Regions from separate parts of the Homo sapiens genome. Here region 2 is linked to region 1. Evidence: fine-mapped expression QTL. Tissue or cell type: whole blood. Region 1 holds a variant in brackets; the other region holds the start of a gene. All regions are shown on one strand. Distances are from middle to middle.

What was found. PIP is the estimated chance that this variant, and not a neighbour inherited with it, causes the effect.
Region 2: GALNT2 starts here. The variant in region 1 is fine-mapped to the expression of GALNT2 in whole blood (TOPMed, PIP above 0.99).

The regions. Positions count from the first base shown.
Region 1 is chr1:230,249,333-230,257,435 of GRCh38, forward strand. It overlaps GALNT2 (polypeptide N-acetylgalactosaminyltransferase 2), which reads left to right. Exons shown (of 16, transcript NM_004481.5): 10 at 1,125-1,228; 11 at 5,886-6,012. Among named protein-coding and RNA genes, the nearest start is that of PGBD5, 170 kb to the right of the region's middle. RefSeq lists enhancers at 2,011-2,672, 2,673-3,333, 5,442-5,942, 5,943-6,443. The variant C/T (reference allele first, on the strand shown) is at 5,021.
Region 2 is chr1:230,063,042-230,071,144 of GRCh38, forward strand. It overlaps GALNT2 (polypeptide N-acetylgalactosaminyltransferase 2), which reads left to right and starts at 4,197. Exons shown (of 16, transcript NM_004481.5): 1 at 4,197-4,365. The coding sequence starts at 4,240. RefSeq lists enhancers at 3,413-3,572, 5,927-6,006 and silencers at 3,703-4,512, 4,953-5,012.

The DNA.
Region 1 (8,103 bases):
GCTGGGCCCGCACCGCCTGGAGACCCAGTGGGGGCTGTTCACCTTCTGCCCTCCGGTTTCCCCTCGTCTCAGCTCAAAGATGAGCACCTTCCACCAGGTCATAGAATAAAATCCTTGGAGATTTCTTTTCCACAGTTGAAGTCTCACATAGGTTTATAAGGCCTATCTGCTAGGTCTGTGCATTCCTGTATGTTGATAATGTAGAGCGTTTCTGTAGCAGAGCAGGATCTCCGAGCTGACCCCAGGCCCAGGAAAAGGGGCTTGGTGGGCAGCAGGAGGCTTACTGCTGCTACTGCCCAGCAGGCCTTTGCTCTCCTGCAGAGGAAGGAGCCCATGCTCATGAAGCCCATGCTTTTAAGATTCCCAGGCCGGGCGGTGGGCTTTCTGGTTGAGAGTCAGGATGCCTTCTCTAGCTGGGGAGAGAAGGGGGCCACCTCTTCCAAGTTGGCACACGGTTAAGTGAGATAGCATTCACAGAGTACTTAGCGCTGAAATATATTTGCTGACATTTAGCCAACATCTGCAGTGTGCCATAGACCTTCCCAGCACTTTACACTGAATTCGCACAGCATCGCTTCTGGGAACAAAGTAGGGAGCTCAGTGTACATCTGTTGTCAACCCCTTCCTGGGATGATGAAGTGAGGAGCATGGTGGGTTCCCTTGTAGGAGGTGGAGTCTCATCTATGATAGTGATAATGAGAGCTGGTGCTGTGGAGCATTTCCTAAGCGTGCTCAGGGCTTTATGCCCATGATTTTTTGCAATCCTCGTAGCTACCCTATAAGGAAACTGACACACAGAAAGGCCGAGTTCTTTGCCTATGGCAGCATGTCAGTGAGTAGTGATCCAGCCCCAGCAGTCGCTCCCACATAGGGGAGGCTCAGTCCAGCCCCTGGCACTGTGGGAACATCCAGGCAGGGACAGTGGGGGAGGCATTTGAAGGCAGCAGTGGTGAAGCAGAGAGAGTGGCATGCTGGGCACTGAGCAGAAAACAGTGGCAGTGTGGCTGTTCTGAAGATCAGCTTATTGTTAGGGAATCAAGGCTTGGCCTTGGCGCAAGGGTGCTGGCAATCTAACCTTGACTTTGCCCTCTCCTCCCTCCCCCCTCTTCTTTCTGCCTCTTTAGAACCCCCATGATTGCTGGTGGGCTGTTTGTGATGGATAAGTTCTATTTTGAAGAACTGGGGAAGTACGACATGATGATGGATGTGTGGGGAGGAGAGAACCTAGGTATGTACAAGCCTCAAATCTCAGGACAGAGAAGTGCCTCAGCTCTGCAAAAGGCAGGGTGCCAATTGGAAAAAAAATTTAAAAGGCTTCAGAGTGACCATTCACTGGGCTTAATCGATCCTTGCAAACACATATGTAACACCCCTTTTGCTCTTGAAAGTCTCATGAGTTGGGCATTAAAATGTGCCTCCCTAGGTTAGAGTGGAGGATGCCAGAATACGGATAAAGTCTTTGAAGGGAAATGCAAACTCTTTCAAGGCGTCTGAACCCAAGTGTTTGGAATGTTGCAGGCTTGCAAAAACAGAGGGAAACAGTCCAGGAGCTCAGATTCATGCTGAGTGGTGGAGAGTGGAAAATGAACCCCGGCGAGGCTGGTGGGATTGATTGAATTGAAATCATGAAAATCCGATGGGGCAGGGAGGCCTTGGCACTTAATCCCTTCTCGACTACCTTTGCGAATGGTTCTCATTTGTTTTTCTGTTTGTTTGTTTTTTTGTTTTTAAATACCCCATGCAAATTATTTTTACCCAGGTTTAGGCACAGCAAAATTTTGCACATTGTGGTCTATATTGGTAGCCTTATATTTACTGCATAAAAGATGAAAAGATGTGTTTTGTTTGTTTAGGGTTTGGAGTGGGGGAGATCTTTTTTGCTTGTTTCAATTAAAGCCTTTTGTTTCAAATGCTTGACATTCTGAGCGAATTCTCCTGGGCTGCTGAGTGTTGTTAACTTACATTCGTCCTTGGGTGAGTGTACCCTGGAGGACAGGGGAGAAGGAAAGGGGAAAATGAGGCCACTCATTTTTAATAGTTTTGAGACTTTGAAAGTTTTTGTTACTTTAAAAGAAAAGACTAGCCTAGCCTATTATTTTTCCATTGTTTTATGATGTTGAAGTCAGTGATACCATCTCATCTTTGAGGATTTCTCTGCCTTGGTTTGATGTTGAAAGCTTCTTTAGGCTCGATTACTATACTGCACGGGTGGAGAGACCGTGAGTCAAACTCCTTTTGGGTTGTTTTAAAAAAATGATACATTAACCTCTAGGGAAAGCTTGGATTGAAGTCACTTGAGTACAAAAGGCTTCAGAATTGTTAACCCTCTAAAGAGAGTTCTGTCACCCTGTTCCATGGGTATCCCCTAATGGTTTAGTGGAAATCCAGCAGGCCAGGGTCGCCCAGTAGGGCAGCGTATCGTGTAGGTGGCCATTTCTCAAAAACAGTGTGGTTTTCAGAAGTTTGCATACTATTAGCTGAAATGAGACATCAGCCAGCATTTTGTGTCATCGTGTAGGAAGAGTGTTGATTTACATATCTAAGGAGGCATTCACCCAGAGACTGGGGGGTAGATTTGTTGTAAGGAGCTGCTTTATTGTGGTTTGGTGTTTGTATTTATTATGTAGCTGTGCTAGAAGGTTCTAGGGTCTGAGCGGTTCAGGTTGGGGTGAAGATGAACCCTGCAAGCAGGAGCACATCTCTGCCCAGGAAGGCTGGGGCATCTGTCCCTCCGTGAGGGGCTCTCCTGGGTTATGCCAAGGACTTGGACTCCCAGTGAGGTTTGGAGGGCTCAAGAGCTTCACGTGAGAAGGCCATGCCGTGAGCCTTTCTCCTTAGCACTGCTCTAGCTTCTGCTTCTGGGGGCCGTGCACACTACTAGCCATTGCCAACCTGAGGGGCCTCTGTGGGTGTGCATTGGGAGAGGTGTATGGTGCAGAGAGGCCCGAGTAAGATCCAAAACCACCTCCTCAACGTGTGCCCCGCTGGAATGACCAGAGCTTCCCATTTTCCTAATCATGTAAGTCCTTATGTCATTTAAGCAATTAAAATGGAGGACCAAGAACCTAACCCTTAACTCTAACAATGGGGGTAAGGCTCCTTGGGGGCATCATCTGTGTTTCTCTACATCCCTGTCATGCAAGGATGATGCTAAGTACTTCCAGGGAATCATCTGTTTGTGCTTTCTTAACGGAGTGTGGTCTGCAGAGGTCATGACACCTTGCCCAGGGTCTCAGAACCAAGATGTAAACACTAACTGCCTAATTAAAAAGCCATTGAGTTTTACTGAGTAATTATCCTCAAAGTTATAGGGTTCAAATGAAATCAACGCTGAAGATACTGTAGTTATACTTAGCCTTGAAAATCTCCCACAAAAGCCCTGGAAGGATCCCTTGTTGGCTTAACAGATTCCCCATAGAGAAGCCAAGGGGATTTCCTAGCCCCTAATTCTAAATCTTGTGGTGAGGCAAATGGATATTTAAATTTTATTTTCTGAAATAGAGACAACTTCTTTTTTTTTTTTTTTTTTTTTTGAGATGGAGTCTCGCTCTGTCACCAGGCTGGAGTCCAGTGGCACATTCTTGGCTCACCGCAACGTTCGCCTCCCGGGTTCAAGTGATTCTCCTGCCTCAGCCTCCCAAGTAACTGGGATTACAGGCATGTGCCACCGTGCCCGGCTAATTTTTTGTATTTTTAGTAGAGACAGGGTTTCTCCATGTTGGTCAGGCTGGTCTCAAACTCCCAACCTCAGGTGATCCGCCTGCCTCGGCCTCCCAAAGTGTTGGGATTACAGGCATGAGCCACTGCGCCCAGCCGACAACTTCTTAGGTTGTGTTGGGAACTGTAAAAAGTAAAGTCGGAAACTTTCACTGCTTATGCTTATGTGATTGTAACCATACATTTTCTATTAGTACAAGAGAGTTGCTTATTAAAGCCCCGTAACAGCTGCATGGATCACCCATTCCTAGTGAGTGAGGCATTAGTTTGCTGGACCCAAGTAGAAACTCATGGTGTTCTGACCCCTGTGTTGTATTTCCTGCCATGTGCCTGGCATTCTGGGCACCTGTTGCCATAACTAGGTTGACTGCCTGCAGGATTTGCCATCAACTCACTGTATGGTCTGTGATGGACCCACCCTATTTCTGATCAATCTGCATTGGTGACAGTGACTGCACACTCTGTAGATACTATATGTGTATATTTTTACTTCTTTTAATTTGTTAATTGACAGATAATAATTGTGCATATTCATGGGATACATAGTGATGTTTTTAATACATATAATGTATGGTGATCAGATCAAGGAAATTAGCATATCCATCATCTCAAACATGTAGCATGTTTTTGTGTTGGGAACATTCAGTATCCTCCTCCTGGTTATTTGAAACTCTGTATATATTATGGGTCCCTAGAGTCACCCTACCGGGCTGTAGAACACAAGCAAGATCCCTCTTCTCTAGCTATAATTTTGTATCCTTGAAAAAATCCCTACTCCTTCCTTCCCAGCCTTTACTATCCTCCGTTATACTTTTTACTTCTATGAGATCAGTGTTTTTTAGCTTCCATGTATGGGTGAAAACATGGTATTCAACTTTCTGTTCTTACTTCACTTAATTTCCTGGGAATACTATCCAGCCAGAAAAAAAAAATGAAGTCCTGTCATTCACAGTAACTGTTGATTTTTGTCCTGCCTCCCTAACATGTTCTTAGGGATCTTAGATAATACAGAGGAAAATTCCCTTTTGTATTATACAAACCTGGTAAAGAAAAACTGTTTTTTGCCTTTCAGAAAATTCTTAGTTTTTTTGTTGAATCTGTTTCTTGCATTCAGTCGGACCCCTGACTCAGACTCCAGTCACTCACCTAGTCAGTGGTGATAAGGGCAGGTACCTGGTTGGAAGGTACCTGTGTGTCACAAAAGGCACACCAGTCAGTCTAAGCTTCGACTGAGTTCCAATGCTCAGGGCAGTCTGTGTGTTTAAGTAGGTGTGGGTAGTGCCTAGACCTACACATCTCATTC[C/T]TCCTGCCGGTCAGTTCTGTGTTGAAGCAAGTCAACAGCAGCCTTCCCCAGGGAGCATTCCTACCTGGGCCAGCTGGTTACTGACTGGTCCAAGCCTGTGAGCAGCGTGCAGATATCAATCAGTTACTTGACTGTCCTTGGTCACTACCATAGTCCATAAGGCAGTCCCTAAGTCCATAGTCCGTAAGTCCAAACTCTGCCTGGAGACTTGAGCCTGCTAATACACAGGGACTTGTATTTAATAAACTTTTCCATTTGAGGGAAGGGATTATTTTTCCCTGGATGAGAAAAGCCAAGATGCATCCTGGGGTTCAGTCTGTTAAAAATAAGTTTTAGAGAAAGATGGCATATATGGTTGTCTAGAATATGTAACAATAAAGCTTAATTGTACATATTTATATACCTTCAGTGTTGCCTTTTCCCACGGTGTTGATACGAAGCAAGTGCAAATGATCGTGAGCCAGCTAGTGAAGAATTCAGCACAAGTGTTTTGTCACTCAGTAGTTACGATGATACTGGGGTATACATGATCTTATGCCAAGAGGCCTTTATATTTACAGTAGACCAAGAAGCATTCTTGTCTCAAGGTGTCTACTCCACATCTGAAAAATATTTCCCCGTGAACATTTTTTCTTGATTGTATTGTGGTCCAGAGATCCAAGTGTGTCAAATGTCTCTCCTTTAGAGAGTTCTGCATCAGGTTCTGGAAGGAGGAAGGTCCTTATCAGATCTCCTTCAGCAGCAGAGGGCATGGGAGCCCCATGATGGGATGGTCAGGGGGCCTCTGTACCTGCTTGGTGTGTCTGCTGTTGCAGAGGTGCGTCCCAGGCTCTGTCAGTCACCTGTGTCTTGTTCATCGTCTCAGAGATCTCGTTCCGCGTGTGGCAGTGTGGTGGCAGCCTGGAGATCATCCCGTGCAGCCGTGTGGGACACGTGTTCCGGAAGCAGCACCCCTACACGTTCCCGGGTGGCAGTGGCACTGTCTTTGCCCGGTAAGTAGTGAAAGGCTGAGCGGGGTCCAAAACATTGATGACTACCCTGAAAGCAGGACCTGACCTTGGGCTGTTTGAGGACAGATGTCCTTCAGTGGGTGTGGTGCATTTATACAATGGAATACCACTTAGCAATTGAAAGGCGCATTCCACGGATGCAGGATACAACCTGGGCGCCTTTCCAGGGCATGATGCTGAGTGAGAGAAGCAGTTACATACATGATTCCACTCATGTCACAGCCTCATAAAAACACAGCTTTAGGGATGGGGCCAGACCAGTGGTGGCCAGGAGCTGTGATGGCAGGAAAGCGGGGAGTGTGACTGCAGAGGGGCAGCACCAGGGATGTTTGGAGGAGGGACGGAGCTGTTCTGTCTCCTGGTTGTGGTGGTAGTTGGACAAATCTTCATGAGTGTGAAGGCTCTTAGAACTGTACACCACCCCCCAAAATGTTATGGGAAAATTTTTTAAAGAAGAAAGTTCATTTTATAACCATTCAAGGTGCAATTAAAAGCAACATTGTCTTAGTCCATTTTATGCGTCTCTAACCAAATACCACAGACTGGGTAATTTAAAATGAACAGAAATTTATCTACTCATAGTTCTGGAGGCTGAGAAGTCCAAGATCAAGGTGCTGGTGTCTGGCGAGGGTCTTCTTGATGTGTCATCACATGGTGGGAGGGCAAAGAGAGGGCAGGAAAGAGCAAGAGGGGGCCAAATTCTCCCTTTTATAATAGCATCAATCCCCCCCATGAGAGTGGAGCCCTCATGGCATAGTCACTTCTTAAAGGTCACCTCTTAAAGGCCTCACCTCGGCTGGGCATGGTGGCTCATGTCTGTAATCCCAGCGTTGCGGGAGGCCGAGATGGGCAGATCACCTGAGTTTGGGCAGATCAGGAGTTTGAGACCAGCCTGGCCAACATGGAAACCGCATCTCTACTAAAAATACAAAAATTAACCGGGCATAGTGGCAGGCGCCTATAATCCCAGCTACTCGGGAGGCTGAGGCAGGAAAATCGCTTGAACTCGGGAGGTGGAGTTTGCAGTGGGCCAAGATCGTGCCTCTGCACTCCAACCTGGGCAACAGAGCGAGACTCTGTCTCAAAAAAAAAAAAAAAAGCCTCACCTCTTAATACTGTTATAATGGCAATTAAAGTTTAACATGAGTTTTGGAGGGAACAAACATTCAAACCATAGCAAATATTAAAGTCAAGCTGTACTAATTGTGTATACCACAAGACATCGTGACACAGAGTCACGATTCTTGATGGAGAGTAGATATATTTTAGTAAACATGAAGATGCCAACGGAAGGGCTTTCCGAAAGTAAAATAGCAAATAGCCGTTCTATCAAGCCAAGTGTCCTTCTAGGGAATTCTCTTACATGCTAAAGATAGAACAGCGTACAAGCCAGATCTCAGGGAGATTGCCTTCTCTTGAGTGTAGACAGCAAAACACACAGCTAAATAAGGTATTTTCAAATAGTAATCAATGCTGTGAAGAAGGTAAGATGCAGTCATGTGGTCGGGCATGATTAGGACAAGCAGTAGGAGAGGTTTTCATGGTCAAGAGAACCTTTGAGGAGGTGTTATGTGAGTTCAGACTTGAAAGGTGGGAGGAGGTCCCTCTGGGACCCCGAGGAATCAGACTACCTGCAGGAGGAGCAGATCCAGGCTGCTGAGGTGCGTTTGGCATATCAGCCAAATGGAAGCCAAGGGTAGCTGGAACCTAGAGAGTAAGGGGACAGTGCACAGGGGCAGAAGAGCTAGACAGGCCCGGGCCATGCACCTTTGCAGGTCATGGGAAACGTTGGATGTTATTTGATTCTGAAGGAAAACACTGGGGCTTTTCAGCAGTGCCTGATGTCTGTTTTATGCTTTGGAAAGGTCCGTATGGTTGCTGGGCAGAGGGTGGCCAGGTGGTGACCCTATGGTGAAACAATGGTACGAGTGCCCCCTCCACTCTTGGAGCCAGAAGCAAGGGTCCTGTGAGCACTGTTGCAGTAGCCCAGGCCAGAGATGTGATACAGTCATGCACCTGTAACAGCGTTTCGGTCGGTGACAGTAGTCCCATAAGATTATAATACCGTGTGTT
Region 2 (8,103 bases), 190 kb before region 1:
GTGGCTCACACCTGTAATCCCAGCACTTTGGGAGGCTGAGGCAGGTGGATCATGAGGTCAGGAGTTTGCGACCAGCCTGGCCAATATGGTGAAACCCTGTCTCTACTAGAAATACAAAAATTAGCAGGGCATGGTGGTACATGCCTGTAGGCCCAGCTGCTTAGGAGTCTGAGGCAGGAGAATGGCTTGACCCCAGGAGGTGGAGGTTGCAGTGAGCCGAGATTGTGCCACTGCACTTTAGCCTCGGCGACAGAGCAAGTGTCCACCAAAAAAAAAAAAAAAAATTTTATATAATAGCTATCCTAATGGATATGAAGTGGTATCTCACTGTGGGTTTTTGTTGTGTTTTGTTTTTTATTTCCATAATCAACACTGGAGGTACATTACAGTTTGTCCTCATGAATTCTAGTTGTTCTCATGAGGTACATTTTGTCCTTGCAGTTTTGACTTTGTCTTTGAAATGCCCCATGTCACATCTAGCTATTCTTCTGATTCCCAGGTCTAGAAACTACAGTGACTTCAGACCTGCCCCATGTACAATGGAAAGACTTCCATAACCTTTTTTCTTCTACCTCTAACATTGTCTAAAGTTTAATCTCTATCATACATCGCTTATTCCATCAAACTAATAATGATTTTACTTTGCAGATCAAATCCTAATGATATACAATTGATAAGTGTTTAGGAAGGGAAGTTTTGGGCTATAAATTGTCCCTCTTCATCTCATTTAATGCTTTTTGGCCTACTCTGTTTTGTTTGATATCAGAATCACAGCACCTGCTTTTTCAGAGTTGGGGTTTCCGTTATGCCTACATTTGAAAATCTTTTATTTTAAAGGGTGAACTGAGCCCACTTATAAATTGTTATATCTGATGTGGGTTGGTCTCAGCTGTGTCATATTGTTTCCTATTATAACTACTGCATCACTGTGCCACACTTACTGTGTTTCTTTCATTATTTGGTATGTATTCTTTGCTATTTTTAGAACTTTTGGGGTTTTGGAATAGGGTTTCCAATATTTGGGAATACATATATTTTGTTGTAGTGATTTTTATTTATATTTTTAATATATTACCCTTAATTCCTATATTTTGTTTCTAACCTTTTAACATCTGGTCTGTCTGTTTTATATGGTATCCTTTCACTACTACCTGCTACTGATATTGCAGACAATGATATTATTCTATTTTCCCTTCGCTCTTCCCCTTCTCCTCCAGTTGTCTTTAGTTGCACCTGTTCTAAGTTTATCAGAAAGTATAATGTATATACACTAGTCTTTCACCTTCTGAATATACAAAATGCTCTCCATTAGTCACTCTGCTGGCTTCCTCAGCTGTCTCTTGGTTGGAGGAAGCTCATTCTCTAAGATTCCTCATGAAAGGCCCATGTGAGTCACGTTCTCTGAATTTTTGCATTCAGGTCATATCTGTTTGCCTACAACCTTGACACTTGAGGGCTGGGTATAAAAATCACTGCCTGGTACTTTTTTGTGTGTGTGTCATGGAGTCTCGCTCTGTCACCCAGGCTGGAGTGCAATGGCATGATCTCAGCTCACTGCAACCTCTGCCTCCCGGGTTCAAATGATTCTTCCACCTCAGCCTCTCGAGTAGCTGCGATTACAGGCACCTGCCGGCTAAGTTTCATATTTTTTTTAGTGATGGGGTTTCACCACTTTGGCCAGGCTGGTCTTGAACTCCTGACCTCAGGTGATCCACCCACTCTGGCCTCCCAAAGTGCTGGGATTACAGGCATGAGCCACTATGCCCAGCCTGCCTGGCACTTTTGTTCCTTGTTAATGCTGCTCCACTGTTGCCTGGCTTTGCATGTTGCTGTTCAGAAGTCTGATGCCAGCATAAATTTTTATCTCTATAAGCAATTTGATCTTTTTTGCCTTTAAAATCTAATCGTTTTACTAAAATATATTTAGGAGTTGATAATTCCAGATCATTTCCCAAGGTACATGGAAGTCACTTTTGACATGTACATTTAAATTTTCCCTTATTCCTGGATTATTTTCTGGGGTTATAGTTTTAATATTAATTAGGTTTTATTGTTTAATGTTTGTACTTTAGGGACTCCACTTAACATGTATTTTGGTCTTCCTTTCCTGGCTTTTATTTTAACCTCTTCTCTCTGAACCTTTTTACTTCTATCTTTATATTATTTTCAATTTCTTGATTGTTTTCTTGCCATTCTTCAGTGTCCTTTTACATATTTTCATTTGAATATATTTTCCCTTGGACACCTTGTAATTATTCTTTGTTTCTGGGATAGTTTTTGTCATTACTTTCAATTTCCTTCTTGAATTTGCTCAACCCTTGTTGCATTTCTTCCTAATTTTTGTCTAGTCTGTCTTCAGTTCTTGAAATTTCTTATCCTAGATATGTGTGTGTGTGTGTATGTGTATACAAATACGTGACACTTTGTTCAGTTTGACATGTGGTATTACAATTTTCTTATGCTTCATGGTTTTTATTGTGGGGGTTTTCATCAGCGAAAATGTTATGATTTATTTTTTATCATCAGAAATGTGATTTCTGTTTTCTTTTTGCAGAATCTTTAAATGCAGTTGATTTGATGTTTTTCTGTTACTAGGCATTTTGAGGCAGGGTTCCCGGTTCAAGAGTGTTTTCTTTTATCTGTGTACTGAAATGCAGTTTTTAATAGATAATGTTGGTGTTTGGGGAGGGGACTGGCTGTCTTCTCTTTCATTTCTGCAGGATTTGTAATTTTCCCTTCTGACTTCCTTCTTTCCCTTCATTGTCAGGCCTCTGAAGGACATTATCTTCTTTTCGTATTTATCTGACTTTTTCCCAGAAACAAGGCTCCTTCAAGCCTCTCACCTCTTGTCCCATTTTCTTTCAAATCTCTTCCCTTGATCAATAAGGCACCTGACCTCTGTTCAGTTTTTAGTTCTTGGTGTTGGACTTTCTATTTATAAAGAGGTGACAACCCTGTACTTCACTTAAGTCCTTGGCAATAGTGGAGGGAGCTCAGTTGGAATTTGGTATCTTTTCTTTCTTCTACTTAAGTAATTTAATGTTCAGTTCATGGCATTCTCTCTAAGTAATGCTGAAGGCTTGTTTTTGTTTCGTTGAGGATATGGGTACGGACTTATATCAGGCAGCTGCCATTATCCTCTGACCGAGAAGCTCCTGAAAACATTTAATATATCAAGTTCTAAGTAAAATTTCTGTCTTTCTTAGGAACACTGGAAGCTTTGCGTGTTGCAAGGGCATCACCAAGGTTACATAGATTATGTTACAAGACAGATCGTTTTCTTGTATCGTTAAAGATGCTTAATGTGCTTTTTAAAGAACGCAACGAATGAGAAAGAAAAGATTTTAAACAATATATTATTGCTTTCCTTCTTCCTCATTTTGTGTTTATTGAAAAGAACAACTCTACCATTGATAGCTCTGTCACCCACAGAAAAATGTTCTTTTGAAAATTACCTTCTCAGTTCCTACCAACTCAAAACCTCCACATCTGCCTATATAGATAAATAAAATCGATACCAGCGGGTCAGGAATGTTTTGCTGCAAGATTAGTGAGAAAACTGCAGCAAGCAGCAGCAAAGTCGGGTTCAAGCGGGCGGTTTGCACCAAAAACTCAGGTCAGTTGGCCAATAAGAGCAAGCCCGTTAAGGGTCTGAGGTGGCCCCAAAGACCAAGGCTGAAGAGGTGACAGTCTGGGCAGGAAGCACCGAGGCCACTACCGCCCCCGTAATCGAGAGGCCCCGTGTGCGTGAGCAAGGCTCTTTGCCCACGTGTGCGCGCGCTCCAGTCGGGTCCCGGGGCAGCCACCTGTCACTCACGGGGGAGGGGGCGGCCGGCGGGGGGAGCACGCTGAGGGGCGGGCGGCCGGGGGCGGGGCGGCGCCCAGGCCCTCACGGCGGAGCCCGGCGTGCTGCAGCCATGGAGACGCGGCAGTCCCCTCCCGCGGCCCGCGCCCCGGCCCCCGCAGCCGCCGCCGATTGGTCGCCCTTTGCTCCCTGACCCCCCTCGCCGCCTCCGAGGCCGCTGCTTCCTGCTCTGGTGCCGCGCGGCGCCGCCGGCCCGGGGCGGAGCTCGGGCGCCGAGTGCGCGCCGCCGCCGAGCAGTAGCACCGCGCGGGAGGAGGAGCCGCCGCCGCGCCCTTCCCCTTCCTCCGCTCCTCCCCCGGCCCCCACCGCGCCCGCGGCCGGCCCAGGCAGCACTCGCGAGCAGCGGCGGCCCCGCCGGCGGCCGAGTTGGGAGAATGCGGCGGCGCTCGCGGATGCTGCTCTGCTTCGCCTTCCTGTGGGTGCTGGGCATCGCCTACTACATGTACTCGGGGGGCGGCTCTGCGCTGGCCGGGGGCGCGGGCGGCGGCGCCGGCAGGAAGGTGAGTGGAGCGCCCTGCCGCGGCCGGGCCCCTGCGCCCACCCCCCACCCTGCGCCCCTGTCCCCTGCCCTCTCCGCGCCGCCCCTGCGCTCCTCCGCCCGGACCTCCGCTCGCGTCGCCCGCCCTCGTCCCGGGCCTCCGCGCCGAGTGCCCAGGGCAGGGGTGCACCCGGCCCCTCTGCGCACGCCGGGCTCCGAAAGGGCGGCCCCCGCAGCCTTTCTCTGCCCCCTCTCGTGGACGTCGCCCCTCTCTCTGCTCGTCGTAATTCGAGTCTTGTCCGGCCGCCGGGAGCCCCATCCCCTGCGGTTGGAAGTTTAGGGATGGGGGTGTTGGGAAACACAAAGGGGGTGGGGAGGAGAGGAGAGAGAGGCGACCGCTTTTCCAACGCGTCATGTACAGCAGGAGAGAGGAGTCCAAGTTTCTTTTCAGCCCTTTGATACCAGCGGCTGCAAATCCTCGTCCCTTTCCCCCTGTCACTCCGCGGGGCGTGGGTTCCGTGTTTCTGCCACCTTCTTTGCCCTTTACCTTTGGGGGGCAGGGGCGGCCGCTCCCGTGCCAAGTAAAGCCCCAGGGCCCGTGCGAGCCAGGGGCCAGTGCGCCCCTGCGCCCCGAGCGAGGCCAGTCCCGGCCGTTCCCTTGCGGCCCCAGCGTTACCCTCTGCCCAACCCGGCCCCCGGCCCTCCCGCGCGAGCCGGACGTGGCCTCCTGCGCTTGCATTTTCCATCCCCACTCCCCGCTTCAGGGAGAATCCCTCTTCTGTGGCTGTGTTTTTAACATGCTCCAGGGGCCGAGTGATCTGGCTGTGGGGACCGTGTGAGCCGCTCTGCGGTTCCGCGTCCTCGTGCCGCCGCTCCGGACGGCCGGGCCCTGGGCATTCGGGAGGATGGTGAGCGCCGAGAGGAGCCGGGACAGCGCGGTCCTGCGGCCGAGCGCCGGCCGGGAGAGCAGGGCGTCGGGCTGTGTGCTGGAGCATGCCGGCAGGGGACGTTTGTAGTGTTTTACTGGCTCCTCGGCTTTGAAAGCAGCGTTATCTTTTCCGAATTCCTGTAACCCTCGTTACTGTGACATTTAGTGTCACCGCAAACCCAGAAAATTCTGAGTTAATGGAGATGGACTACGGGTGGTTGGGTTGGAACAAGAGAGTGGTATCCTGAAACAAGCCAGAGGGAACTAACTAGATGAACAGACTTCAGTTCTGAAGTCAGACCCCTAAATGTCCACGCCGGGGTTTGGCTGCTTCAGAGGTTTTTTCTTTGCTTCATTCATTCATTCATAGCCGAAGATGTTAGGTGGAATGGGTGCCTTATGTGGTTTCTGGTAAATTACGTGGATTTGTTTTATCTAGAAGGGCAGAAATAAAGCCCTCTTTCCACGTGCTGAATCGGCCTAGCTTCTGAGCTGACATTGTACTCTTAGCGTTGTTTTTGTAAAAAATGGTATAGGTAGTATATGTACGCGAAGACTTGGTTTATTCTTGAACAGCAAAGAGCATGCAGGCAGCAAAAGCCGTGCAGTCCATTCAGAGATATAATCGTGTAAAACTGGAATGATTTTTAAAACTTTGCTTCCCGGTAAACTGTGCCTTGGCCACTCTGCATAGCCTGGTGTGCTGGTGAGACCTGGCAAAGCTTTCTGCCTTTCATGCAAAGAAAACCAAACACATAAGCCACCCTTGGCGTTTCTCTTTCCTTAGTCTGCCACTTTCATTAGTACACGTGATTAGAAAGAGCAAGCGTGCTCGTTCGCCTCCCGGAGGCTGATTCCTCACTCTGGTGGGCTTCAGTTCCTGGATGGTGTGAGGGGTCTTCCATGCAGAAGTCTTCAGACACTCCTGAAGTGTGTGATTCTTAGTTTGTTTTTTTTTGTTTTGTTTTGTTTTGTTTTGTTTTTTTTAAAGAATTCCTGGTGGCAATATAGACAGGTACGGAGACCAGGTAGAAAAAGTGGGGGAAATGAACAATTAATTACACATGGATTGGTGATTTGGGATTCTATTCTTTCTGTCAACGAACCATAAAATTTAATGCTACCCCTTAGGATGCTTTAGTGATTTGTCGGTTGAGGAAGAGGTGTGTAAATGCAATAGCTTTTGAAATTGCAGTGGAAGACTCATTAACTTCGTGTGGTGGACCCAGGGTTAAAGAGAAGCCTTAAGATGGTTTCTGAAGGAGGTAAATAGAGCCCTGCTGTCACGAATGCCTGATGTATAGGAAAATCGTGTAGTCTTCTTTCTTCCCCAATTGTTTCCATGGATTTAGACACTAGAAGTGTCTCTAAATTTATTTCATTCTCATACCAAAAAAAAAATGTGGTTTGTTTGGCTTGTAAAGTATGGACATAAAAAAAGATAGCGGGCCATGCACAGAAAGGCAGAATTTAAAAGCTAGCTATAGTTTTTTTAGAGATAAGTGGACCTATATTTTTTCTCTTGCCTCATACTGTTCAAGTCAGGGCTTTTATTCCATATTTAGCCAGTTTCTGCACATCCTGACGTTTTTCATAGGGTACTAGGCTGCAGTATTGGGCTTTAGGGATCGTCTGAGGGGAGTCCAACTAGGATTTCTGCTGCTTCAGCAGCCCAGCCCAGGCTTGTCATTGTGTGCCCTGCCTGTTAAGTAACTCATCACAGAACTGTTATTCTCCACTTGGCAAAACCCAGAGAGCCAGCTCACCTCAGATTGCAGGTTTAGTAAACTAAGCAGGAGGGAGTGCTGAAGACCAATCTCAGGCACTGCCGCACAACTCGGGACTCAACACCCAGGCTCAGGACATGTATGTTAAAGCAGTTTATTCAAAATATTGTTTAAAATTATGTTTCATTTACATTTGTGTCCATACCCTTTCCCCCCATATTTTGCTCTTTCCCCCTAAATTGATGATTTGCACTTCAAGCGTGCCTTTCCTTTGAGCTTCTTAAATGCTTTAAAATTTTAACCATGTTAAGTCTCCCCTGGGCTTTGGTACGTTGGCAGTGGATGGAGCCGCAGAAGAGAGGAAGGGATTTCTCTGGAAATGAAGCTGCCTGTGGGTGAAGTGTGGCTGTTTAGGGTGGAAAGGGAAGGGTTTTCTCTCTGCTGTAAGAGTGTGTGGAGCCTGAGACCCCTTGCCTGTGTGCCTGCATGCTGGGAGGTAAGGGACGGTGTTAGTTGAGGGACATGATCCGGAGCCCTGGGAGCCTGTCCACTTTGCACAGTAGCATCACCCTTATTCCCTGAGCTGGCACGAGTCCTGTGGCCCTTGCCCGAGAGTCCAAGGGTGGGGGACTTTGGGTGGGATCTTCTAGGAATCATGCGGGGAGGCGGGCAGGTTATTTCTTGGAACAGTGAAGGACCTTGCCGGGCTAGACCATGGTACACATGGAGGGGAACGTTAGGGTGTAAAGTTGGAGAAATTCAGAACTAAATTGTAACGGGCTTCAAATGCCAAGCTGAACCATTTGGGAACTAGTAATGTTTTTGAGCTAGTAGTAGACATTAAAGGGAAATGGCACAAATCCACTTATTGGCATTGAGTGAGACCTAGCTGTTTACCTCTTTGTGCTTAGTGACCTTCACTGATGCATTGAACCTCTCTGACCCTCAGTTTCCTCATCTTTGCAGTGGGAGTAATCATTCTTACCTCATGGCCTTGTTCGGAGAGTTAAATACTGTTAGTGGGTGCTGAATAACTGCTATCTCTAAAAGAGGAAAATGAAAAAATAAAAGCCTAAATATCCCCTTGAAAGTGTAGTGAACCAGG